Regions from separate parts of the Homo sapiens genome. Here all the other regions are linked to region 3. The links come from fine-mapping of genetic effects on gene expression. A gene starts in region 3. Each other region holds a variant in brackets. All regions are shown on one strand. Distances are from middle to middle.

Region 1 (5,106 bases), 38 kb before region 3:
CTCCGTGTGTCAGGCAGAGCCCTGTGAAGGTGTGGATATGTGGCCATATTTTACCTGCATAATCTGCAGTTCATATGATTCAGCCTAATGGGTTGCAATGCCCTGAGGACAGAGACCATACTTTTTCTTCCTTTGTCTTTTTAGCGAAATTCAATCCTGTTCTGCGCCTGCGCCACAGTTGCAGGCTGTACTGTCTGCCCTGTGCATCTCACACACCCCCACTGCACTGTGCACCTAGTGATGGCCGCAGATTTGCTTTTACTCATCTTCCAGGGCCTACCCTGTTAATTCCATCACAGTTGCAGGCTGTACTGTCTGCCCTGTGCATCTCACACACCCCCACTGCACTGTGCACCTAGTGATGGCCGCAGATTTGCTTTTACTCATCTGTTTGCAGGGCCTACCCTGTTAATTCCATCACAGTTGCAGGCTCTACTGTCTGCCCTGTGCATGCATCTCACACACCCACTGGACTGTGCACCTAGTTGATGACCACAGATTTGCTCTTACCCATCTATTTCCAGGGCCTGCCACTGTTAATTCCTAGGAAAAAAGAAAAAACAAGCATGGTGGATTGGTTAAATTGGCATTTTATATTGTTTGTGTTCATGGCCATGCCAATGATAAACAAGAGCTGGTCATGGGCATTCAGATCAGATGAGCAATTAAATCCCCTCCAAAAAACAGAAACCTACTTTTAGAGAAGAAAAGAATTAAACCAAGATCTTTCAGGGTTTTGCTTCTCCTTTTGTTTTTAAGGCACTTAAATAAATGGAAGAACATGTAAGCTAACCGTGTTTAGAGTACTATGTTTTACTAGAAAGTGCTACCCTTCTGCAGATTTCTCCTCAATGAAAGAATGCCACTGAAGCACCTTTAATGGTGCCTTTATCCTATAGTCTTATTGAATCATTCTCTTTAGCCAACATAAAATACAAAGCCAGGGTATAAGACTTCATGTAGGTGGTAATTTAAACTAACAATTAGTGAGGCCGGGCGCGGTGGGTCACGCCTGTAATCCCAGCACTTTGGGAGGCTGAGGCAGGTGGATCACAAGGTCAGGAGATCGAGACCATCCTGGCTAACACGGTGAAACCCCGTCTCTACTAAAAATATAAAAAAAAAAAAATTAGCCGGGCGTGGTGGCGGGCGCCTGTAGTCCCAGCTACTCGGGAGGTTGAGGCAGGAGAATGGCGTGAACCCGGGAGGCGCAACTTGCAGTGAGCCGAGATTGCGCCACTGCACTCCAGCCTGGGAGACAGAGCGAGACTCCGTCTCAAAAAAAAAAAAAAAAGAAAACAATTAGTGAATTTTTGCTGATGCTTTCCTTAAACCCCTTACTTAGCACTTAGTTCTGGATTCTTAAATCCTGATAATGGACTCATCCTTCTCGGTCTAGTTACCCCAGTAAGTCCCAAGGTCATCCATATGAGGTCCTCCTTGATCTTACTCTGAATAGAATTAACTGGTCTCTTCTGTTTTTCCATAGCATTGACTCATCGTGTTAGACCAGCTTGAATTGTGAGCCTTTCTAAAGCAGGGTCTGTATAATTTACCCTTATATTTGCTCTGTAGGCAGAGAAAATATTATTGAAGTAACTAGATGGTAAAATTAACTGTGCAATCAGAAAAGAAGTTAGAAAAAATTATTAAAATTTTCTGTGAAAATTGTTTTAATTTTATTAATATATTAAAGCATTTTGCAGACTATTCCATAAAGAATTTTATTACATTGGCTCTCATTTTAAAGAAAACATTATACCAGGTGTCAGAACTCAATCATATTTGTAGGAAGAATAAGCCTTGGCCATCAACAACGCTTCTTTGGTTACAGGATTACAGGAACTGCTGAGAATGTAAGCACTTTCCGAAGTCCACAAAGAACTCATTTAAAGCTCGTACAGGCAGTTTCAAATTAGCCAGGGAAAAGTTAATGGTGGGGAGGTAAGGTCATAGAATGCTCTATAAATGGAGGCGACGTGGAGGACAGTTGCAGTTGTATAACATTTGATTGAAGGAGAGGGATTTGGACCTGAGGAAACCAGGTCTATAAATACTAAGGCTGGCTGGGCACAGTTGGCTCATGCCTGTAATCTCAGCATTTTGGGAGGCTGAGGCCGGTGGATTGCTTGAGCCCAGGAGTTTGAGACCAGCCTGGACAACATGGTGAAACCCTGCCTCCAAACAAACAAAATTAACCGAGTGTGGTGGTGTGCACCTGTAGTCCCAGCTACTCAGGAGGCTGAGATGGGAGGATCTCTTGAGCCTGAGAGGTAGAGGCTGCAGTAAGCCCAGATTGCACCACTGCACTCCAGCCTGGTGACAGAGTGAGACTCCATCTCAAACAAACAAAACGTACATGCATATATAGGCTGTAGACTAAATAGTGAAATATTACTAAGAACCTTCATCCCAAGGGGTTGAGTGGTAGAACCACTGAGAATATTGTTGCTGCTCTTTTGGAGACAACAAACTGCATTAATAAAAGTCTGAGAACAAGAAAGTTGAGTTTTCAAGTAATGTCCTTTGCATATTGCTACATAGGGCTCATCTGAGTCTGTGATGTTCTACTTTGTTGATGAAAGAAAACAAGTGGAAATTCTGCTCCCCCACACATCCTGCACTGCAAAAAGATAACAAGTAGCAGGAGATACTCAATTATGATGCAGTTCAACAAAGAAAACAAATTAAAATAAAGAGATCCTGGGTGGTTAAATACAGAGTCTCCTTTGTAAACAGCAATGGATGATGATGATGACTGTTACCAGGGCTCTGTATGATCATTTTCCCAATTCTTTGGAGTACTTTTTTCAAAAGCACTCTTGTAGAATTAACTGGAAACATAGACTACCCTTCACTCATTACATGGGAAATGGGATTGAATTCTCTTCTTGGCAATGGAAAATACTTGATGCATGCAAATAAGAAAACTCTTACTTTTTCCTTCTCTCCTTGCAGGGGGAGCACGCGTCCTAAGCTTGCCAGGAAGCCCTGCTCTCCTGCCCTGGGCACCTCCGTTCCACTTGACCTTTTCCACCTGTACTCCCTGCATTTTGGTCTCTTGCTCTGGTCTTTAGCCTTCGCATTTTCCTGATGCAGCCCAAACCAGTCACCTCT[C/T]TCCTAGATTCATTCTCTGTGCTCAGACCATCTCTTTCCTTTAGTTCCTGTGACGAAAGAAAATGTATTTGGCCATTGGAGGTATAAGCAACAAAGAATCCAACCCACACAGCTTTATATATGCAGGTTCTCTATATGCTCTTCTTGTGAACAGCGTGGGGAGAGGAAAATAGACTTGGCAAGAGGACTAAGAACAGAATCGGACAGTTATCTGATGGCTTTCCTAAGGTTCAGGAAAGAACAGTGGTCCCTTTGTTGGGCCTTTCTGTTGTTTCTTTGTTTTCAATTTCACTGATTTCTGCTTTTTATTTTCTATTTTCTTCTGTTTCCTTTGGAATTCTTCTTTTTTTTTTTTTTTTTTTTTACTTCTTGTATTAGGCTCATGCTATAACAAACAACCCCCAAATCTCAGTGACTTTACACACTAAGAGTTTACATTTTCCTCATCAACGTCCACTTTGGATGTTCCAGGTTGGGTAATGCTCTGTGGCTGTCCTCTAGCTAGTGACTCAGGGACTTGGGTTGCTCCTGGTGTCTCCAGCGTGGTTATGGTGTCTCCAATTTTGGACTTCAAGGTGACCCAGGCATTATCCACCTGGTAAATTGGGAGATGGGTCCCAGGAAAGTGAATACTCAACCAACCTGGCCTAGAAGTGACAATAATAAGGCCATGTGTGGTGGCTAACAGTCAGAAACCCAACAATTGGGAGATTGAGCTGGGAGGATTGCTTGAGACCAGAAGTTCAAGACCAGCTGGGCACCATAGTGAGACCCTATCTTTCAAAAAAATATAACAACCAGGCTTGGTGGTGTACACCTGTGGTCCCAGCTATTTGGGAGGCTGAGGTGGGATAATCGCTGGAGCCCAGGAGTTTGAGGTTACAGTAAACCAGGTTTACACCACTGCACTCCAGTCTGGATGACAAAGCAAAACCCTCATCTCACAAAAGAAAAGAAATGACAATCACAGCCACTGCAACTTCAAGGAAGGTTGGGAGAGTGATATTGGTCAGGATGAGTGGTCTCTGACATGTTTCTTAAGTTGGATATTTAGCTTATTAATTTACAACTCTTTTCTAATATTAATACTCAAGACTACATTTTCCCCAAAACATTTATTTTGCCATGTTTTGCAAGGCTTGGTATATGGCATTTTCATTACTCTTTAATTCTAACTAATTTTTAATTTCTATTATGATTTATTATTTGATCTATGAATCATTTTGAAATTTGTTTTTGTAACCTTGGATAGGGAAAGATTTCTTATAGAAGACAGTAAAAGGGCTGAGTACAAAAGAAAAGACTAATAAATTCAGCTACGCTAAAGCTTAGAACTTTTCCTCATCATAGGACACCTTAAAGAAAATTTTTAAAAAGTTACAAATTGGGAGAAGATTAAAAAGTCCTAAGGGTTAGCAGTAAGAATATATACATATAATTATTACAAATTGGCAAGAGAATGACAAATCAACACAAAAACGAGCGAAAAGGCATTTTGCAAAAGAGAATCAGATGGTCCATATGCATGTGAAGCGATTTTCACTAGCGAGCAGGGAAAGTGAAGTCAAAATCACAGGGAGATGCTGCTCTCTACCTGACTGGCAAAACTGAAATGATTAGAAAATACTTGGAGGATATCCTAGAACGATCAGTGGGATCTGGTATATTATGTGTATGAGGTTAAATTAGCAGTGAGTATTCACATACCCTATGACTCAGCAGTTTCATTCCTAGATATATATCCTGGGGATTAGAAACACTAAGTAGGTGGGTGCAGTGGCTCACACCTACAATCCCAGCACTTTGGGAGGCCAAGGCAGGTGGATCACTTGAGGTCAGGGGTTCGAGACCAGACTGGCCAACATGGTGAAACCCCATCTCTACTAAAAATACAAAAATTAGCCAGGCGTGGTGGCGGGCACCTGTAATCCCAGCTACTTGGGAGGCTGAGGTGGGAGAATCGCTTGAACCCCGGAGGTGGAGGTTGCA
Region 2 (5,106 bases), 46 kb after region 3:
CCTGGGTGACAGAGCGAGACCCTGTCTCAAAAAAACAAAAAACAAAACAAAAAAAAGAACCAGAAGATGAATTTCTGGCTTCTTGGTGTTTTACATCTCTTTTATATTAAAGCATACATACAATTCTACACCATTTTGGAATTTACTTGCCTATATAACCGTACAGTAAAGCCTTAATAACTAGAACAGTGATTGAGTTGAAGAGATTAGGCTTAACCAAAACATCTTTCTTTAATAAAGTCATTAGTATAGAAAAGTAGTAAAGAAAAAGGTTTCCAATATCCAGTAGGATAGACTTTTGTAGTCTCTTAAAACATTTTGTTTTACTGTTAAATTGAAATACAACCTATCTATTGTTTAAACTCTCTAAGAAATCTGTGTGACATTAATTTTTTTTCTTTTTCTTTTTTTTTTTGAGACAGAATCTTGCTCTCTTGCTCAAGATGGAGTGGAGTGGCGCGATCTCAGCTCACTGCAACCTCCACCTCCTAGGTTCAAGTGATTCTTCTGCCTCAGCCTCCTGAGTAGCTAAGATTACAGGCACCCACCACTACTACGCTTGGCTAATTTTTGTATTTTTAGAAGAGATGGGGTTTTACCATGTTGGCCAGGCTTGTCTCAAACTCCTGACCTCGGGTGATCTGCCCTCCACAGTCTCCCAAAATGCTGGGATTACAGGCGTGAGCCACTGTGCCCGGCCATGTTTTTTTTTTTTTTTTTTTGAGACAGGGCCTCACAGCCTGCAGTGCAGTGGGGTTGATTTCGGCTCACTGCAACCTTCCCTTCCTGGGCTCAAGTGATCTTCCCACCTTACCCTCCGAAAGTGTTAGGTGTGAGCCACTGTGCCCTGCCCAAGAAAAAGTTCTAAAAAATTTTTTATTTATTCATCTTAAATTGACAAATAAAATTGTACATATTTATGGTTTACAATATGGTGTTTTGAAATATGTGTACATTGTTGCATAGCGAAATCAAGCTCATTAACATATGTGTTACCTCACATAGTTTTTTTGATCATGAGAATACTCAAAATCTCTCTTGGAAATTTTCAAGTATACAATTCACTGTTATTAACTGTGGTCACCATGTTGTACAAGAGCTCTCTTGAACTTATTCCTCCTGTCCAAATAAAAGTTTTGATTCTGGCCAGGTGCGGTGGCTCACACCTGTAATCCCAGCACTTTGGGAGGCTGAGGCGGGCGGATCATGAGGTCAGGAGTTCGAGACCAGCCTGGCCAACATGGTGAAACCCCGTCTCTACTAAAAACACAAAAAATTAGCCGGGTGTGGTGGTGCGTGCCTGTAGTCCCAGTTACTCAGGAGGCTGAGGTAGAAGAATCACTTGAACCCAGGAGGTGGAGGTTACAGTGAGCCGAGATCGTGACACTGCACTCCAGCCCTGGCGACAGAGCAAGACTTTGTCTCAAAAAAAAAAGTTTTGATTCTTTGACCAACTTCTCTCCAATCCTTCCCTCTACACCAGCCCCTGACAACCACCATTATACTCCCTGTTTCTCTAGGTTTGACTTTCTTAGGTTCCACATATAAATGAGATCATACAGTACTTATCTTTTTGTGACTGGCTTATTTCATGTAACAAAATGTCCTCCAGGTTCATCTGTGTTATTGCAAATAACAGGATTGCCTTCTTTTTAAAAGTGTTTTTAAGTGTATTCTATTGTGCATATAGATCACATTTTCTTTATCTGTTCATCTGTCGATGGACAAAGATTGATTGCATATCTTGGCTATTGTGAATAGTGCTGCTATGAATGTGGGGGTATAGACATCTCTTTAATATACTGATTTCATTTCTTTTGGGTAAATATCCAGGATTTATCCAAAAGATAAAGAGATTGCTGGCCCATATCGTAGTTGTATTTTTAATTTTTTGAGAAACTTCCATACTGTTTTCCATATTGGCTGTACTAATTTTCCTTCCCATTGACTGACTACACACAAGAGTTCCCTTTTCTACGCATCTTCACCAACACTTGTTATCTTTCATCTTTTTTTGAAAATAGCCATTCTAACAGGGGTGAGGCGATCTCTCACTACAGTTTTAATTTGTATTTTTGTAATGATTAGTGATATTGAAAATTTTTTTCATACACTTGTTGGCCATTTGTATGTCTTCTTTTGGGAACTATCTATTCTGATTCTTTGCCCATTTAAAAAATTGGGTTATTTAAAAATAAGTGTTTGAGGAAACATAATGAGCACTTTTTTAAAAAACATATTTAGGAAATTGTGGTTCATGGAGAGGGGCATGGCCAGTGGTCAACTGGAAGTATAGCTCTGGAGCTCAAGAGGTCTAGCTTGAAATATGAATTTGGTTGCCATTAGCATTGGTGATAATTCAACAAAAGGTAGTAAGAGAAAGTAAAAAGAACATGAATAAGATCCTAAGGAACACTGATATTTAAGGGATTAAAAGAGGCAAGGGGTTGCAATGAGCTTGAGAAGAGATGAAAGAAGACTGGCAGAAAGTGGAGTACTGAAAGCCAAGAGAAAAAGAGTATTAGGATGGGATCCTGTGCTGCAGGGAGGTTAGTAAGAGAGAGATTGAAAAGCACTCCTTGAACTCAGCAAGAACAAAATGCCTGGCAGTTTTTCTTTCTTATTTTTTATTAATTTATTTTT[A/G]ATTGACAAATAATAATTGTGCATATTTATGGGTTACAATGTGTTGTTTTGATTTATGTATACATTGTAGAAAGATTCAATCAAGATAATTAGCATATTTATTCCCTTCCAACATCATTTGTTTGGAGTGAGGACTTTAAAAATAAATTCTTTTAACAATTCTGCAATATACAATACATTATTATTAACTGTGTTCACCATGCAGTGCAATACAACACCAACACTTACTCCTCCAGTCTAACTAAAACTCTGTGCCCTTTGATCACCATCTTCCCTTTCCCCAACCCTTCCCCAACCATCCCCAGCCCCTAGTAATCCCCTTTCTACTCTCTTTTTCTATGAGATTAAGTTTTTAGATTCCACATATAAGTGAGATCATATAGTATTTGTATTTATATGCCTGGCTTCTTTCATGTAGCATAATGTCCTTCAATTCCATCCATGTTGCAAATTACAGACTCTCCTTCTTTTTTAGGTCTGTATAGTATTCCATGTGTATATACATACCACATTTTGATTCTGTATCTTAACTATTGTGAATAATGCTGAAATAAACATGGGAGTACAGATATCTCTTTGACATACTAATTTCAATTTCTTTGGATATACACCCAGAATACGGATTGCTAGATCATATGGTAATTTTATTTTTAGTTTTTGTGGAACCTCCATACTATTTTCCAAAATGGCTGTACTAATTTACATTCCCACCAACAGTGTGCAAGGGTCTGCATCCTTGCCAACATCCTAGACCTCCTCCCCTTCCTCTAGTTTTCAAAAAAATAGAAAGAAAGAAAATAGCCATTCTAACAGGTATGAGGTGATATCATTGTGGTTTTAATTTGCATTTCCCTGATGGTTAGTGATGTTCAGCATTTTTTCATGCATCTATTTGCCAATCATATGTCCTCTTTTGAGAAATGCCTGGCAGTTTTGATGTGGGCATCTTGATTCAGCTGAGGTTGAGCTCCACTTGTATTATTAGGTCTTGGAGAGCTGACTGTGTGGTAAGAATTGGAGCAGTAGGAACAGACTTCTTTTACAAAGGTTGACTAAAGGGAAAGTTTAAAAATGCACAGCGACGGCCGGGTGTGGTGGCTCACGCCTGTGATCCTAGCAGTTTGGGAGGCCGAGGTGGGTGGATCACTTGAGGTCAGGAGTTCAAGACCAGCCTGGCCAACATGGTGAAACCCTGTCTCTACTAAAAATACAAAAATTAGCCAGGCGTGGTGGCATGCGCCTGTAATCCCAGCTACTTGGGAGGCTGACCCAGGAGATTTGCTTGAACCGGGGAGGCGGAGGTTGCAGTGAGCCAAGATCTCACCATTGCACCCCAGCCTGGGTGACAGAGCAAGACTCCATCTAAAAAAAAAAAAAACAAGAAAAGAAAAGCAGAGTGACTAAATAGCTTTAGCGGAAAGAATTTTATTTTAAGGTGGGTAGAATTTCACAAAGATTGTGGATCAAAGAGGAAAGTAGAGAGGAATTGTCTAAAGATACAGGGCAGATGAAAAAAAATACAGGACAGAGAAGAGACAGTAAATATGCCTTCTCCAAGAACAAGGAGGGCGGCACCTCCCCAGCATAATGAAGGGATTGGTCTTCAATAGGAAGAGAAGGGTAACAGGTATATAAGGATGGTATCTAACAGCTCTGTGAAGAACGGTGAGATGGCTGAATAAGAGACAGCAGGATGTATTGGGGATGTGAAGGTAGAATAACTGCTGGTTTCTTCCATCGGTTGGGTGTCATTAAACACATGTTGTGAGCTCCTGTTGTGCTTCAGGTAGTGTGCTGGCATTAGATGGTGAGCCCTGCCACCATAGAGTGGGGGGACAGATACTCATCTTAATCATACAAATATATCCAAATTTGTGATATTGATAAAGGCTGTGAATGAGCGGTTATTGGCGTTCTGAGACCATGTAATGGGTAGTTTGACTCAGACAGCTCAGGGAAAGTTATCTGTGACAGCTGGAGAGAGTGAGTATATGATACTTAGTAAAAGTGAGTTTCCCTTCTTTTTTAGAAATCACCTTATTTAAAAGAGACAACTTATTTTAGCAAATATTGACCTTCTCCATGTCTCTTTACAAAACTGTCCTCATCTAAGATGACTTAACATATTTGCAAGAAGTTCCTTTTTAAAAAAACAAAAAAACCAAATGTAGATGTTTACACTTTTAAAATGAGAACTGCAAACCATTTTTAGCAGACGGTCCTTGTGTTCCTGAGTTGCAGATGTCACACCTTATCGCATCTAATTTAAATTGAAAAATAGTATTATCCTGTAAAATTGACAACAAAGAGAACATTCTAAAGTATTATCATTTTATGAAGAATCTAGAAATTACAAATGCATGTTAACTCCTTTTGTGCTGTAATAGTGGTTGTGTATTCGTGATTCTTTTACAGTCCTTCAACACAAATTAATTAGTTTTATCCCCAGTTTCAGGTTAAACT
Region 3 (5,106 bases):
GTGGTGACTCATGCCTGTAATCCCATCACTTTGGGAGGCCAAGGTGCACAGATCACCTGAGGTCAGGAGTTTGAGACCAGTCTGGCCGGCATGGTGAAACACTGTCTCTACTAAAAATACAAAACATAGCTGGGTGTGGTGGCACATATCTGTAATCCTGGCTACTCAGGAGGCTGAGGCAGGAGAATCACTTGAACCCTGGAGGCGGAGGTTGCAGTGAGCCGAGATAATTAATGCCACTGCACTCCAGCCTGGGTGACAGAGCAAGACTCTGTCTCAAAAAAAAAAAAAAAAAAAAAAGCACATCATCCATCATCCAGCACATGCTAGATGAGGCTCTTATTGCCAGAATGTGGAGTTCTGACTGTGGAGTGCTCATATCCACATACAATGCCTGTATTCTCTGCATGATTTCACTATGTGTAGAGACGAATCCTCGGTATGCTGCCCGGGGTTGGAATTGTGTGTGTTTGCTGTGCAGAGGCTGGGCGGACAGAGAGATTTGAAAGAGGGGTATGGGAGGGGCTGAGTTCTTACAGACTTTGAATTACTCTTCCTGTTTTCAGTCCTGTCACCCTATCACTCATTTAGCTCTCTTAGCTTCTTTTGGCTTGAGTTCCGGTCCTCTCAGGGATTCAGCACCGCACACGGGCAATTTCCTCCAACGCCGTGTTCTCCTAACTAATGAGATATTGTGGTTCCCCTGCCTGCCTCCATCTGTTATTGCTCCTCCATCGGCTTTCAGGCTGCCAGAAATCTGTTGTGCTCTCCCAAGTTCTGATGCTTTTCCTCCTTTTTTGGGTTATTGTGGGTTTATATCTTTTTTTTTCTTTTGAGACGGAATCTCGCTCTGTCACCCAGGCTGGAGTGCAGTGGCGCGATCTCAGGTCACTGCAACCTCCGCCTCCCAGGTTCAAACGATTCTCCTGCCTCAGCCTTCTGAGAAGCTGGGATTACAGGCTCGTGCCACCAGGCGTGGCTAATTTTTTGTATTTTTAGTAGAGACAGGTTTCACCATGTTAGCCAGGATGGTCTCGATCTCCTGACCTCATGATCTGCCAGCCTGGGGCTCCCAAAGTGTTGGGATTACAGGTGTGAGCCACCGTGCCCGGCCCTATAAACTTTTTATACTTTTCTCATTTTAACGGAGTCTTTGGGGAGGGAGGGAGCAAATCTGTGGTCAGCCCGTCATCTTGAACTGACAGTCCGGCCGTTTTGAGGATTATTCTAATTCTACAAATCATCTTTGCTCAAAGAATTTAAGTGGCTCTATTCTGGCCCCATAAAGGTAAATAACATGTCTTTTGAGGATATCTTTGATGATGGCATCTAAATGTCTGGTGAGAAGCCAGGCCATGCTGTTGATACCACTAAATTCCTTTAATATCACCTAGTACCATTTTTTTTTCTACGTAAAGCAGGGAACTAGAAGACAACTCAATATAGGGAGAAGATGAGGCAGCACTTCCAGAAATAGAAGTGTACACAAACAAGAAGCCGCTGAGAGAACCTTCATTTTGTTCCTGCTCAAAATGTACAGCATCTTCTTTCATTTTTTCACTCCTCCACAGATTTAGTTTACATTTTATCTTTGTCTTAGTCATTCAGGCTGTTATATCAAAACACCGTAGCCTGGGTGGCTTACAAACAAAAGACATTTATTTCTCACAGTTCTGGAGGCTGGACATCCAAGATCAAGGCGCCAGCAGATTCATTGTCTGGTGAGGACCTGCTTCCTCGTTCCTAGGTGACTGTCTTCTGGCCATGTCCTCATATGGTGGAGGGGTGGGCAGATCTCCAGGTTCTCTTTAATAAGAAAATTAATACCATTCATGAGGGCACTGTCCTCATGACCTAATCACTCCCCAAAGGTCCACCTCTAAATACAATCACATTGGGGATTAGGTTTCTATATATTCTATATATTCTATATATATATATATATATATATATATATATTTTATATATATATTATATATATATATTTTATATATATATTATATATATATATTTTATATATATATTATATATATATATTTTATATATATATATATTTTATATATATATTTTATATATATATTATATATATTATATATATTTTATATATATATTATATATATTATATATATTTTATATATATAATATATATATTTTATATATTATATATATATAATATATATAATATATATATTATATATATAATATATATATAATATATATATTATATATAATATATATATAATATATATATAATATATATATTATATATATATATTATATATATATATACACATACATATTTATTTATTTATTTATTTTGAGTTGGAGTCTTGCTCTGTCTCCTAGTCTGGAGTTCAGTGGTGCGATCTCGGCTCACTGCAACCTCTGCCTCCCAGGTTCAAGCAATTCTCCTGCCTCAGCCTCCTGAGTGGTTGGGATTACAGGCATCTGCCACCACGCCCAGCTGTATTCATTTCCCTAGAAGGTATAGAGAAACAAGAAGCTGGTGTTGAAAGGGAGATTGGGAGGGCAGGAATTTGTAATGAGATGGAATATCTCTGACTTTCAGCCTGCCATTTTCCTTTTCCAATGTGGGAAAGAAAAGTTTTGTGGTTAGAGACTCTTCTATGTCTACTGCAAAAGATGGCAGGCTAAGACTTATTTTTATCCTAAAATACGTTTTACAAATGTGTCTGTACCCTCTCTTTATTAGAGCATTATGAACGATTAGGAAAGGAGGAAAGAGGGAAATCTGAAAGAAGATTGAACCTAAAGAGGTTGAAGTGGCATTTCACCCAAAAATGCTGAGAATGACTCTGCAGATCATCTCACCCTCCATGCCTGTAAATGAACATCCTTGCCTCCAAAACAGGAAAGCAGAACCATGAACTGTTCCACCAATGTGCTCGGCAAATGAATACACTGGGCAGTGCTTAGTGATCAATGAACTCAGGCAGATGGGGTGTGCTTGCCTTACATGTACTGTGTCCTGGATATGGGCATCAAGGAAGGGTTTCATAACAATGAGAAGGAAGAACGTTAGGATTGAGGAAGTGGAGATGATACTTCCTCTTCTTTCGAAAGAGCTTTACTCTCTGATCAGCTTTGAATGTTAGTTCTGGGTTGACTGAGTTTCCAGAGCTGAGGCTGCTTTAAGTAGAATCCTCAAGCTTGGCCTCAGAGTACTATGAGGCTTCTGAATCCAGGAATAAGACTGCTCTTGGATTTACTCTCTTTGTATTGCATGTAAGTAACGTCACTTCTTGGCTGATGTATGAGAGGTAACTGCTTGACAGATCAAGATGGCAAAGCAATGGATACCCTAGCACTCTCCTTAGAGTAGTGAGGTAGGAAATATGACTTTGGGGATGTAATATTCACTCAGCTCTCTGTAATCTGGGAAGCCAGGTGCTAAAGATTCTTTAATTCTGTGAAAGCTTTGAAAGAGGAGAGAGTTGTGTACTCACTCTGCTTTTATGTTTCTTAAATGGGTGTTGTCTTGATAGGTGTTTAGACTGCAGACCACAGGTTTGATTTAGAAAAGCACAATTCAGCATGTATTTGGGTCCTGAGGAGTTCATTTGGGGAAGCACTCTGGGGCCGCCCTCTTTCGAGAAAGTGTGTTCTTTGCAAGGGAGCTTCCTTTGCATGGAGGCAGCTGGGGGACATTTTACACTTTGATAAAGGTCTCAGGCTTGCCAAAATATCTCTGGTATAAAAATGAAAGCTAGGTGTTGTTGGTTCAGAGTCTTTTAGTAAGGGTGTCTGGGGCACTTGATTTTTCTTTGCTGGGGTATATGTGAAAGTATTTAATTATAGAAGTCAGAATTATAACCCACTGAAGCATCTTTGACTACAGCAGTGGGCTCTATTAGTCTTGAGTGGCCTATGTGTTCCTAGTGCTGTCCTTGATAAAGTCTAATTTCTATCGAGTTATTTATTTTATGTAGAAAATTGAAACCGAGGGCTGGGCACAATGGCTCACACCTGTAATCCCAGTACTTTGGGTGACCACGGCGAGAGGATCACTTGAGGTCAGGAGTTTGAGACCAGCCTGGGGGCAAAATAATGAGACCTCATCTCTACAGGAAGAAAAAAAAAAAGAAAGAAAAGAAAATAGAAAATAGAATGCCGGGTGCGGTGGCTCACGCTTGTAATCCCAGCACTTTGGGAGCCCAAGGCGGGTGGATCATCTGAGGTCAGGAGTTCGAGACCAGCCTGGCCAACATGATGAAACCCCGTCTCTACTAAAAATACAAAAATTAACTGGGCGTGGGAGCATGCACCTGTAATCCCAGCTACCTGGGAAGCTGAGGCAGGAGAATTGCTTGAACCCGGGAAGCGGAGGTTGCAGTGAGCTGAGATTGCGCCACTGCACTTCAGCCTGGGTGACAGAGCAAGAGTTCATCTCAAAAAAAAAAAAGAAAGAAAGAAAGAAAAGAAACAGAAATGGAAAGAACACACATTTCTTTCTGCTCACATCATGCAAGCAAGGAAGAAAAGGGTGTAAGTTTGTGTATGTGTTGATGAACTCATTCTTTAATTTACCTTATAATTTCCTTCCATTCCTCTTTTTATAAATCAAGTGTCTTTTCTGGAGTGGGTCCATGTATGAACTATTTCAGGCAAGCTGTGTTAAGCAAATATACATCATCAGAGTATGGAAATAGGAAGTTCTTTCCTGCGGTAGTTTGCTGTGGCAATAAGAGATAAGAAATTACTTCATCACTATTGCCTGAGACTTTCCTTTTGACTCGTGCATCCTTTTGAACAGCTCACTTCTGCTTTCCATCCAGCTTGGAGGCTCTGCAGTGTGAGCTGATAATTGCAGTACAGGTTAACAATTTGCAAGTAGGTCTAATGTGGCAAATGGTGTGTGTGTGTGTGTGTGTGTGTGTGTGTGTGTGTGTGTGTGTGTGTGAAGAAAAATCCTAAAAAATAAGCTTTTTAGCCTTAAAGAGAATCCTGCAAATGGAGGAGTTACTTGTGCTCCCAAGTGCTCAGAACAGTGCCTGCTCTCAGTAAATATTTGTTGAATGAATGAATAACTGGCATAATTCATAAAATGAATGTGGTAGGAAAGCCATTGCTTTATCTCTGTTACTC
Region 4 (5,106 bases), 49 kb before region 3:
TCAGCCCCTGACAGGCACTCATCTACTCTGTGGATTTGCCTGTTCTGGACATTTCATATAAATAGACTTATGCAACATGTGGCTTTTTGACAATGGGCACTTTTTCAATGTGACTGTTCCCCTTTCATTACAAAAGCAAAGCAAGTACATTGAAAAACATGGAAGGCATGAGAAAATAAAACTCAGCTGGAATCTGTTTCTCTGACCTAAGAAATAATCACTGTGAATGTTTCGTGTGATTTCCAGTTGTTCCTGTATTTACATTTATATACTTAGAAAAATGTGCAAAATGGGAGAAGTTGGCCAGGTGCGGTGGCTCACACCTGTAATCCCAGCACTTTGGGAGGCCAAGGCAGGCGGATCACGAGGTCAGCAGTTCGAGACCAGCCTGGCCAACATGGTGAAACCCCGTCTCTACTAAAAATACAAAAATTGGCCAGGTGTGGTGGTGGGCGCCTGTAGTCTCAGCTATTCGGGAGGCTGAGGCAGGAGAATCTCTTGAACCTGGGAGGCGGAGGTTTCAGTGAGCCCAGACCTCTCCATTGCACTCCAGCCTGGGCAACAGAGTGAGACTCCGTCTCAAAAAAAGGGGAGAAGTAAATATTCAATAATACTATGTAAAAATGAATATTATCTACACCATATTTGAAAAGAATATAGCCGTATTAGAATGCCATCTTATGGCTCTAGCGCCTATTTATTCAACGTGCCACTGTTGGAAATTTAGGTTTTTTTTTTTTTTTTTTTTTTTCAAATTCTAAAATTTGAAAAAGGCTAAAATTTTCTAAATTCTAAAATTTAGAAAACTTAGAATTTAGAAAATTTAGAAAATTCTAAAATTCAAATTCTAAAATTTGAAAAAGGTTTCAGTAGGCTAGGTGTGGTGGCTCATGCCTCTAATCCCAACACTTTGGGATGCTGAGGCAGGTGGATTGCTTGGTCTCAGGATTTCGAGACCGGCTGGGTGTGGTTGTGCGCACCTGTAGTCCCAGCTACTTGGGAGGCTGAGGTGGGAGGATCGCTTGAGCCTGGGAGATGGAGGCTGCAACTAGCTGAGATGGCACCACTGTACTCCAGCCTGAATGACAGTGAGACCCTGTCTCAAAAAATAAAAATAAGCATAAAAATAAATGTTTCAGTAAGCATCCGTGAGTCCATAGATCTTTGCACATTTTGGGGTGTAGAATTTCCGCTTCACAAGGATGCTACATGTTACCAAAGTGTACTGTATTTTAAGTTTCTATTCAGTTTCTTAACATTCCAGCCACATCCCAGGGGGTCTGCTGGCAGTTAGGGCAGGATCACTCTTTTCCTTGTTCGGGAATGTTCCTGAATGCCCAGCTTGAATGCCCTGCATTAAACAATGCATAAACAGTTCTGTTCAGCCATCGCGGGGACACTACACTCTATGGTCCCCACCCACTAAAGGAGACCCGTGTGCTACCTCTCAGGCGCTAAAGCAGCCTAAAGTATGAGGGACCCTTCCCATTTCTGCTTCCAGAGCACCCATTGGTGGGCCCAGCCACAGGTGGGACCTTGTGGCCAATCCAGGGAGGAGAGCAGTAAAGGTATGGTGCCCACATTCAGGGTGGTGGCAGAAGTCTGGGCAGGCCGAGGGCCCTCCAAAGAGCACTGTGTAGGGGATTGTGATTTTTTTTTTTTTTTCCTGGAGGGGACAGAGTCTCGCTCTGTCAACAGCCTGGAGTGCAGTGGCGCGATCTTGGCTCACTGCAACCTCCGCCTCTCGGGTTCAAACGTTTCTCTGAGTAGCTGGGACTACAGGCGCCCGCCACCACGCCAGCTAATTTTTGTATTTTCAGTAGAGACGGGGTTTCACCATGTTGGCCAGGATGGTCTAGATCTCTTGACCTCGTGATCCACCCACCTCGACCTCCCAAAGTGCGGAGATTACAGGTGTGAGCCACCACGCCCGGCTGGGATTGTGACTTAATGGACTTTGTCTGGAAACAGGGGAGGATGCCCTTTGCCGGTATTTCAGTAACGAGCGGATTCCTCCGATCATTGAAGAGAGCTCCTCTCCCCCATACCGGTTCTCCAGACCCACGACCGAGCGGCATCTGGTCCGGGGTGCGGACTACATCCGAGGAAGCAGGTGCTACATCAACTCAGATCTCCACAGCAGCGCCACGATTCCATTCCAGGAGGAAGGGACCAAAAAGAAATCTGGCTCCTCAGCTACGAAGTCCTCGTCCACAGAACCGTCCCTCCTGGTCAGCTGGTTTACGCGCCTCAAACTGTTGACTCACTGAGAGGGACCCTGCTCAGGCCACCTGCCTGGCTCCTGCCCCAAGTGCCTTGCTTTTACAGTGGACAGCCTCTTCTCGTTTCAGCCTCAGTATTATGTAGGGACCTTATGCAATTTCTTTTTCTTTTGAAAAGTTATCTACTGCCCTTCTTGGAAGTTTGCAGGATTGGATGGGAACAAATTCAGAGGATCTTAGGTGCTGGCTTGTGGAGACAAAAGGAGGGAAATGGGTAGAGCCTGTTTGTCTTGCTTCCCCAGAGATAGAATGTGAAGACACGCGCTAGAAATCGCAGTCCTGGCCAGAGACGTTATGGTCATTGTGAGGGACTGGTGGCATTGTTCCTTTTTGAGGGGCTGGGGGGACTCAAATTGGTGGCTGTTTTCACACAGATGTGTTGGTTTGTGGTCCAACTTCTTTATCTGAAAAAGCCAGTGAGAAAACATTTTTGATTTGATTTTTCTAAACTA[TCTAC/C]CATATTTTAAGTGTAGCAGCTTTGACTTTGCAATAACGTGGCAAGTATCTGATTTCTCCTTTGAGGCAGAGGTTTAAGTGTAGGCCTGTTACACTTGTTTGATACCTTTTTCATGACAGTCTCAGTATAGATCAGTTGGTACAGAAATACATGAACACATTTTGATAGGGCTTATTTCACACAAAGAAGTTTATGGTTATTTGTGTGGGGTGGTGTTGTTATATATTATTGTCTTTAAGGGAAAAGAAGCTATAAGATTCGCTGACAGCCAAAGTATCATTTAGAAAAGTGAAGCAACAAGATTTAGGTTGATGAAAGATACATGAGTTTGCATTTTGACCTGTTCAGTGTCTGTCTTCCAGCACGGTGTGTACACTTCTTCAAAATTGTACACAGTTTGCTAATTAGAAATATCTTGGAAAGCCTCATGGTCACTAATTTTCAACTAGCATCAGGTATTTTGAAAACGTGTGTCTGGATATTAACTCTTGTTTAAACTGAATGTATGATATTTTGTTAGAATGGAAAAGTACTATCTTGTTAATTTAAGTATTTTAAATATAGTTGTATATTTTTCTTACTCTTAGTCACCTGTAATTGAAATATTTCTGTTTTGCGTCATACACGAAGCTAGTGAAAAAGAAAGTGCAAGGCATTTTCAGATGAGCAAGTGACTATCGTGGCTGTTGCCAGCAGGGCAGTATTGTTAAAAAAAATCAAAATAAACCCTCCCAAGCATTTTGGGATTTTATGGATTAGAAATGGAAGAACAGGAGAAGCATATGCAAAGTGAAATTGCACGAGGGGAATTTTCTGAGGTATCTTCCTAGGCAGAGCCGAAATCTCCTACTCCAAAATGCCCTTTCTCATACCACCGGAATTGTTGAGTTTGCTGAACTGCCTGGAATTCAGCCCATGAAAATCACTGGAGTTAGGAAACATCTTCCCTTTAAAATGCTTCTGGTGTGGTTAAAGGAACTAGCAACCACTCATGTATAATTACTGTGACTGAATTCAGTCAGGCTGGTTTTTTTTGTTTGTTTGTTTGTTTTTGAGATGGAGTCTCAATCTGTCACCCAGGCTGGAGTGCAGTGGCGCAATCTCAGCTCACTGCAACCTCCACCTTCCAGGTTCAAGCGATTCTCCTGCCTCAGCCTCCCATGTAGCTGGGATTATAGGTGCCCGCCACCATGCCTGGCTAATTTTTGTATTTTTAGTGGAGACGGGGTTTCACTACGTTGGCCAGGCTGGTCTCAAACTCCCAACCTCAACTGATCTGCCGGCCTCAGCCTCCCAAAGTGCTGGGATTACAGGCATGAGCCACCACACCCGGCTCAGTCTGGCTGTTTTCTTCTCTACCTCTAAGACAACTGCCATGAAGATCTGGTATTTCGGCCTGGCGCAGTGGCTCATGCCTGTAATTCCAGAACTTTGGGGGGCCAAGGTGGGTGGATTACCTGGGGTCAGGAGTTCAAGACCAGCCTGGCCAACATGGTGAAACCCTGTCTCTACTAAAAATCAGCTTCGCATGGTGGTGGGCACCTGTAGTCCCAGCTACTCGGGAGGCTGAGGCAGGAGAATCACTTGAACCCTGGAGGCGGAGGTTGTAGTGAGCCAAGATCAGGCCACTGCACTCCAGCCTGGGTGACAGAAGGAGACTCTGTCTCAAAAAAAAAACAAAAAGAAAAAGATCTGGTATTTCATGGAGACATGGAGACCCAAGGGTGTTTGGCAGATGGAGAGAAGAGGCTTGCAGTGTGTGACCACAGGGTGTTCAACACACTAGGAGGGTGGGGTGTGGGCTGGGGAGGTCTCGTGTAGGGCACTGGTGATGAGGAGGGAGCTGTGTACGAGGGGCGAGCCAGCCCTGCCTGTTTTACTCTTGTCTTGAGCTGGCTTTATGCCCAGGAAGTGGGTGGCAACATCTCCTCTTACTCCCCAGATTGTGGGGAGAACTCTAAGAGCTGTAGTTCCACTGGATGATGAGTTAAATCACTCTGGAGGCCTTAGCTGGCTGGTGAGCTCTTTTTCTGTGGGGAAAATGCCACTTGTGAATTGAACAGCCATCCTTTAAGTGAATATTCGGCAGTCAGTCTTCATTATAGGCAGTGGCCAACCAGATTGGTGCTTTTCAGCCTTTGTTCCCTGGAGTCCCAGGACCCGCGAGAGAAGTTCCTGGCTCCTCTACTTGCAGTCACCCTCCACAGCTTCATCTTTCTTTTTATTTGAGGTTTTCTCCTGAATTGTGTTTGAAAAATATATTGCTGCTAAAAAAAAAAAACCTTTGTAAACCTCTACTATGGACATACATAAATAATAGTTTAATATGGATTTCTTAGAAATTAATGGAAACTGCTTGCCTCAGTA
Region 5 (5,106 bases), 110 kb after region 3:
ATGTTTATCAGACTCAGTATCTTTACTGCTGAAACAATATGTACATTTCTAACTGTGTTCTCTATGGTGCTAAGTCATTTATTGCAATTGTTTCAGCTAGAAACTCCACGATTTTCCCTGGAACTTTGCTCTTCCCCACTTTCTACATTGTCTTCCTCCTTCTTCCGTCTTCTCTTGCACCCTTCCTGCAGCTCCTTATCTCCTCTCCCTTCCTTCCTCCCCTTCTTCCCAGTCCTCCTTTCATTTCTTCTTTTCCTCTTCTAGGTGGAAAGTGCCGTGGTATCCATCTTCGCCACAATCTCTAGTCCTTGCTTCCCTGCCCTACTTCTTAACAAAACAGCAACAATGCAAACAAATATCCTAACAGTTTACTATGCAGAGTTTTATTCTTGAAATACCTATTTTCACTTTACCATTTACTTTGGTGACTTTGGGCAAAATTCTGAAGCTCCGTTTGCTTTAATTTCCACTTCTGTAAAGTGGATATAATAATAGCACCTGAGCCAGAAAGGTGGCTATGAGAGTTCAATGCTAGTAATCTTGAAAAGACTCAGAGCAGCGCCTGGCACATGCGAGCATGATATGATTATTAAGCTTTATTCATATGTTTTAGCTGTCATTGTGGTTTTTTAAAATAAGAGATGGGATCTTGTTATGTTGTCCAGGCCAGTTTTGAGCTCCTGGGCTCAAGACATCCTCCCACCCCGGCCTCCCAAATCACTGACATAGGCGTGAGTCATCACATCCAACCTCTGTCATTGTTTTTATTACTGCTTCTGTTATTATTGTTAGAATGTCTATTGTCTTTCTTCATTATCCACTACTATGACAGATTATTTCAATTAATGTATTAAGTATTATTTAAGGTGGTTAGTCTTCTGAAAAAATTAAGCAAGCTTTTCATGTTTTCACAGGTAAATGTCTATTAATTGGATGCTTTAGAATCTCCTTTAAAAAGTTGAGTCTATTTTTCTGGGAAGGATAAAAAACGTTTGTGGAGATGTCAGGGGTTTCTGGAAGAACATCCCTAACAGCTCTATCAGTGCTGTGCCGATCTGGTATGGCTCTAAAATAGTCAGGAATTTCTGTGGCTTGGTTGTTAAAATATTGGTAATTTGAAACTGTCAATGATGTGAGGGTTTCTACCACAGAAATTGACAAAAGCCACCAGTTAGGGCTCCTGCAACCAGAGAGCCCATTTTACCAGCATATCACTGTATAGTTTTTGCTAAAGATTAGGATCACTATGAAGTCTGATGTAATGACAGAGCATCTTACTGTGAATTTTAATACATCTTGGGGTAAATTTTGCCTGCAAGGTTTAACAACTACTATATGGATTATAAGTCAATATAACAGTTACCCGTAACCTGGGCGTTAGCCCCAACATTCAATATCAAAGGAGTTTCCTTTGTATATTTTCTACTGGGTCTTTTGTATATTTCCATGTGTTTTTGAGTGATTCGTGGCCAAATGAAGTTTTTGAACCATCTTTTAAAAAGTTAAAGAAAAATACACTTCTTCAATGAAAAAGAAATACATATTTTCAAAGAAAAATTTCCCCTCAACTTTAGAAGTAAGTTAGGGCAAAATCAGATTTTTAGAATAATTTTTTAGTTTTACCTATAACATTCAAACTGGAAGAAAATAGAATGAGAAAATATCTTACTAGGCTCTGAATATTTATGATGATAGCAAGTTATAATTTCCCCTATTGAAAAACCATCTCATAAAATGCTCAACTGGTTGCTTGCTTTTTTTTTTTTTTTACTTACCTAGCGAAAAACCACATGCAAGATCATTTTGAAACGGACTAGTTCACGGGTTCCACTTCCTGTTGTGAGGAGTAAAATCTATCTTAGATGCAATAAAGTTCTCAAAGATTGTTTTCACTGTCTCATATAAACCAATTTAGGTTTCAAATTCATGTATGTTAGGTGAAACTGAAACTCCCTGAATTTGTTATTTCTATAATATGCAGTCTGTTTCTGGTCAGGGAAAACAGTTTTAACAGTTAATAATTTGCTTTAAGAGAATTATTGTCAGAACAGGGTTGACTCAATGACTCAATAACTAAGCTCCCTCCCCCACTTAAAAACAAACAAAAAAAA[AG/G]CCTTTCTTTGAGTTGGGTGCCTGTTCTGCTTGAGGTATTGTTCTCATCCCATCCTAGGCATAAGAACGTGGTGTAGACCAAGGGTTGGTCTTGGGCAGAATTGAGACAAAGCTCACATTTTGGGGCTTTCCCTGGAAGTAGCCCTAAGGTGGAGCCGGAGGGCTCCAGTCCCACTGGGTGCTCACAAGGAATGGGTGGAGGATACTCACTGGTACCCAGCTGGGAGCGATGGAAGGAGCATCACTTCCTCTCTGCCTTGGCTGATCCCATCGCTGCCCTCCAGGGACTTTCCTCTCATTTGTTCATCTGAAGGCTGCTCTTCTTGTTTGAACTAATGTAATTTCATCTTGTTCATTGGAGGCCTGAGCACTCTAGGAATGACTGTTAACAACGCCCTTTTCTCCCTATTCCCCTGGTTCTTGGTTTGTCTCAAGTGCTTGCTAGGGACTCCTGGACCCCAGATTTCCCAAATCTTACCCAGCATCTACATTCACGAATTCTCTTCTTTGTCTTTAGTCCTGGCTCTCAGCTAAAATTTAGCCACTCAAATAATATACATATTTGGGCAAAAATATTTTGCCAATAGGTACTAGTTGGGTTTTACTGATCTCAGAGAATTGGCATATCAAAAAAAGGTCCCAGGAGATGATTTGAGGGAATGATAGGAACTTTAGAACACAAGACAGGTCAGTGTGGGAGATATTTGTGAAGTGAGGCTGAGACTAGGTCCTTTTCATGATAACTTGCCTGGATTTTAGTAACATGCCATGATTATAACATGTCTATCTTTGCTTAAAATTTAAGGTAATTACTGCCATCTTTATGGATGATTAATTTTGGGGGGGATAAATTTTACTCTAACATTGGTCAGATGAAATGTCAGTGCAATATTTCTTGGGATCTATATTTCCCAGGAAATATAATTTAAACACTTTAGCTTCGTTGTAATTGCTGAAGGATACATAAATCATACTTATAAAAATTATGATTTTTTTCTGTTTATTAGATATAAAGTATTTGTTTATCTCAACGATATAATATTATATTACACATACTCATATAAAGGGATGTTGTTTAGTTCTCAGAGGATTTTCACAAATAAATCTTGTAAAATCTTTATAAGACCTATAGGATTAGAATTATTATCAATATCTTCATTTTATAAATGAAGAAGCAGATTCAGAGAGTGCTATTTTCTTGGGCACCACAGCTACTAATTATAATAGCCAGGAATTGGTTCCAGGCCTCTGGATTTAAAGACCTTCTCCTCTTTTCACTATGTCATATCCCTTCTTCAAACATACAGTAGAACCATATACAATAGCTATCAGATCAATAGTTAGATATGTAGACTATAAGCCAGGAACCTCTAGAAAACATTATAAAATGCTGTACTAAGATTACATACCAAATTTTGGAACTGCTTTTCATTTTCACACGTTTTTTCCCCTGAGTTCTCTACCTGTTAACGGAAAAGGTTGTCTTTCAAATTTAAATCAGTTCAGCTTAGATATTTGTAAAGAAAAAACAAATAGAACTTCTTTAAGCAAAATTTTTTTTCTCTCTCTCTACACACACACACACACACACACACACACACACGTATTTTAAAGCACTTAAAAATATTTTTTATTTTTGCTGATAGTCTGATTGTATGTTTGTTTAAAATGTATTGTGGAAAAAATGTATATTTCATATATGTTGTCTTATGTCTGATTTGAAGAGCTAGTACAGAATAGTAGGTGGTAACTAATTTATCTTCCATAAAACGTGAGAAATATTCAGAGATATTTAAAGACAGAATAACAAACTTTAATTTGTCTGTAAATAAGAATTTCCTGATAAGGAGGGTTGATTGCTACTGAACTCTCACTGAAAGAGGTTGTGGAATTTCATTTTCTGGGATATTTAATTCATGTGGTTTAGGTCTAACCCTACGTGGTAGCAGGACTATGAGCTGAATAGTCAAGTGACTCTAATATTTTGAGATTGTAACAATTATCTTCCAGGTTTATCTGAATAATCATTGTTATTTAGAAATTGCAAAAGAAGCAGATATATTTTTCCTTCTCTCACAAAAACACAAAAGGGGAAATATTTTTTGATTTTTAAAACTTCCGTGAACACTGTGCTATCATAACTAAAGTAGTAGTGAGAGCGGCTTGTGGGTGGGAACAGGAAACATCAGTGATAAATGCTCTGTGACTTTTTTTTTTTTTCAGGTTCAGCTCAATGTATATTGATTCTAATTAGCACATTTTGTGCCTCAGCTAGTAGCTCCCCGTTAAGCTCTGCCTGGAGAGTTTTTTTTTAGATTCCATCCTGCTCATAAACACTGCCACCTCCTCCCTCCTTCTCTCTTTACAAATGTTACAACACAATCAGAAATTTCCTCTTTTCTTTCCTTCCTGCATTTTCAGCAGGTTCCCTTGCGTCAGAAGCCCAGGAGGAAAACTCAAGGTAATTAGATCTCTTTTGTTTCTTTATCTCCATTTTGTGTACGTTGAGTGTGGCTTTTCTCCGGGGTGCCTTCCTTGGGATCAGATTTCTGTCTGTCTTAATGCTAATAAGAGGAGGTGGACGGCAGATTAATTTTTGGTTATTGTTGAATCGATTTTAAGAAATGACGACATGTTGTTCATTTGGATTAATCCCTCGTGGTATGTCAAAAGAGCTTAGAAAAACTGGCAGTGAGTCGGGAAGTAGCTGTGTATTGAGGTGGGCATTAACCCTTCAACATCTATTGCATAACTACGGCTGTTATTGTTGAGAGGAGCTATGTTACTGCACTGATATGCCCGCCAGCCTTACAATTTTAATTATTTTCAACTTATTCTTGGTGAATACTATTCTTAGACTAATACTTGCATATTACTCCTGCTGCGCTGTTTCTTTGGCCGTATCTTATACCTTCTAAGCATGAAACAAATGTTTAAAAATAAAACAGACACATGGCTTTTTTTTTTTTTTTTTGCATTGGTTTTGCATAGGTT

The links.
Region 1: its variant is fine-mapped to the expression of IPCEF1 in sun-exposed skin (GTEx, PIP above 0.99).
Region 2: its variant is fine-mapped to the expression of IPCEF1 in whole blood (TOPMed, PIP above 0.99).
Region 4: its variant is fine-mapped to the expression of IPCEF1 in gastroesophageal junction (GTEx, PIP 0.93).
Region 5: its variant is fine-mapped to the expression of IPCEF1 in whole blood (TOPMed, PIP above 0.99).

What each region holds. Positions count from the first base shown.
Region 1 is chr6:154,392,990-154,398,095 of GRCh38, reverse strand. It overlaps CNKSR3 (CNKSR family member 3), which reads left to right. Exons shown (of 13, transcript NM_173515.4): 13 at 1-5,106. Among named protein-coding and RNA genes, the nearest start is that of IPCEF1, 39 kb to the right of the region's middle. The variant C/T (reference allele first, on the strand shown) is at 3,118.
Region 2 is chr6:154,308,684-154,313,789 of GRCh38, reverse strand. All of the region lies in intron 1 of IPCEF1 (interaction protein for cytohesin exchange factors 1), which reads left to right. Among named protein-coding and RNA genes, the nearest start is that of IPCEF1, 46 kb to the left of the region's middle. The variant A/G (reference allele first, on the strand shown) is at 2,644.
Region 3 is chr6:154,354,812-154,359,917 of GRCh38, reverse strand. IPCEF1 (interaction protein for cytohesin exchange factors 1) reads left to right here and starts at 3,115. Exons shown (of 12, transcript NM_001130700.2): 1 at 3,115-3,246. It overlaps LOC105378067 (a long non-coding RNA gene), which reads left to right. Exons shown (of 3, transcript XR_007059823.1): 3 at 1-25.
Region 4 is chr6:154,403,518-154,408,623 of GRCh38, reverse strand. CNKSR3 (CNKSR family member 3) reads left to right here. Exons shown (of 13, transcript NM_173515.4): 13 at 1,972-5,106. The coding sequence ends at 2,270. Among named protein-coding and RNA genes, the nearest start is that of IPCEF1, 49 kb to the right of the region's middle. The variant TCTAC/C (reference allele first, on the strand shown) is at 2,735.
Region 5 is chr6:154,246,916-154,252,021 of GRCh38, reverse strand. It overlaps IPCEF1 (interaction protein for cytohesin exchange factors 1), which reads left to right. Exons shown (of 12, transcript NM_001130700.2): 4 at 4,534-4,573. Among named protein-coding and RNA genes, the nearest start is that of IPCEF1, 110 kb to the left of the region's middle. The variant AG/G (reference allele first, on the strand shown) is at 2,112.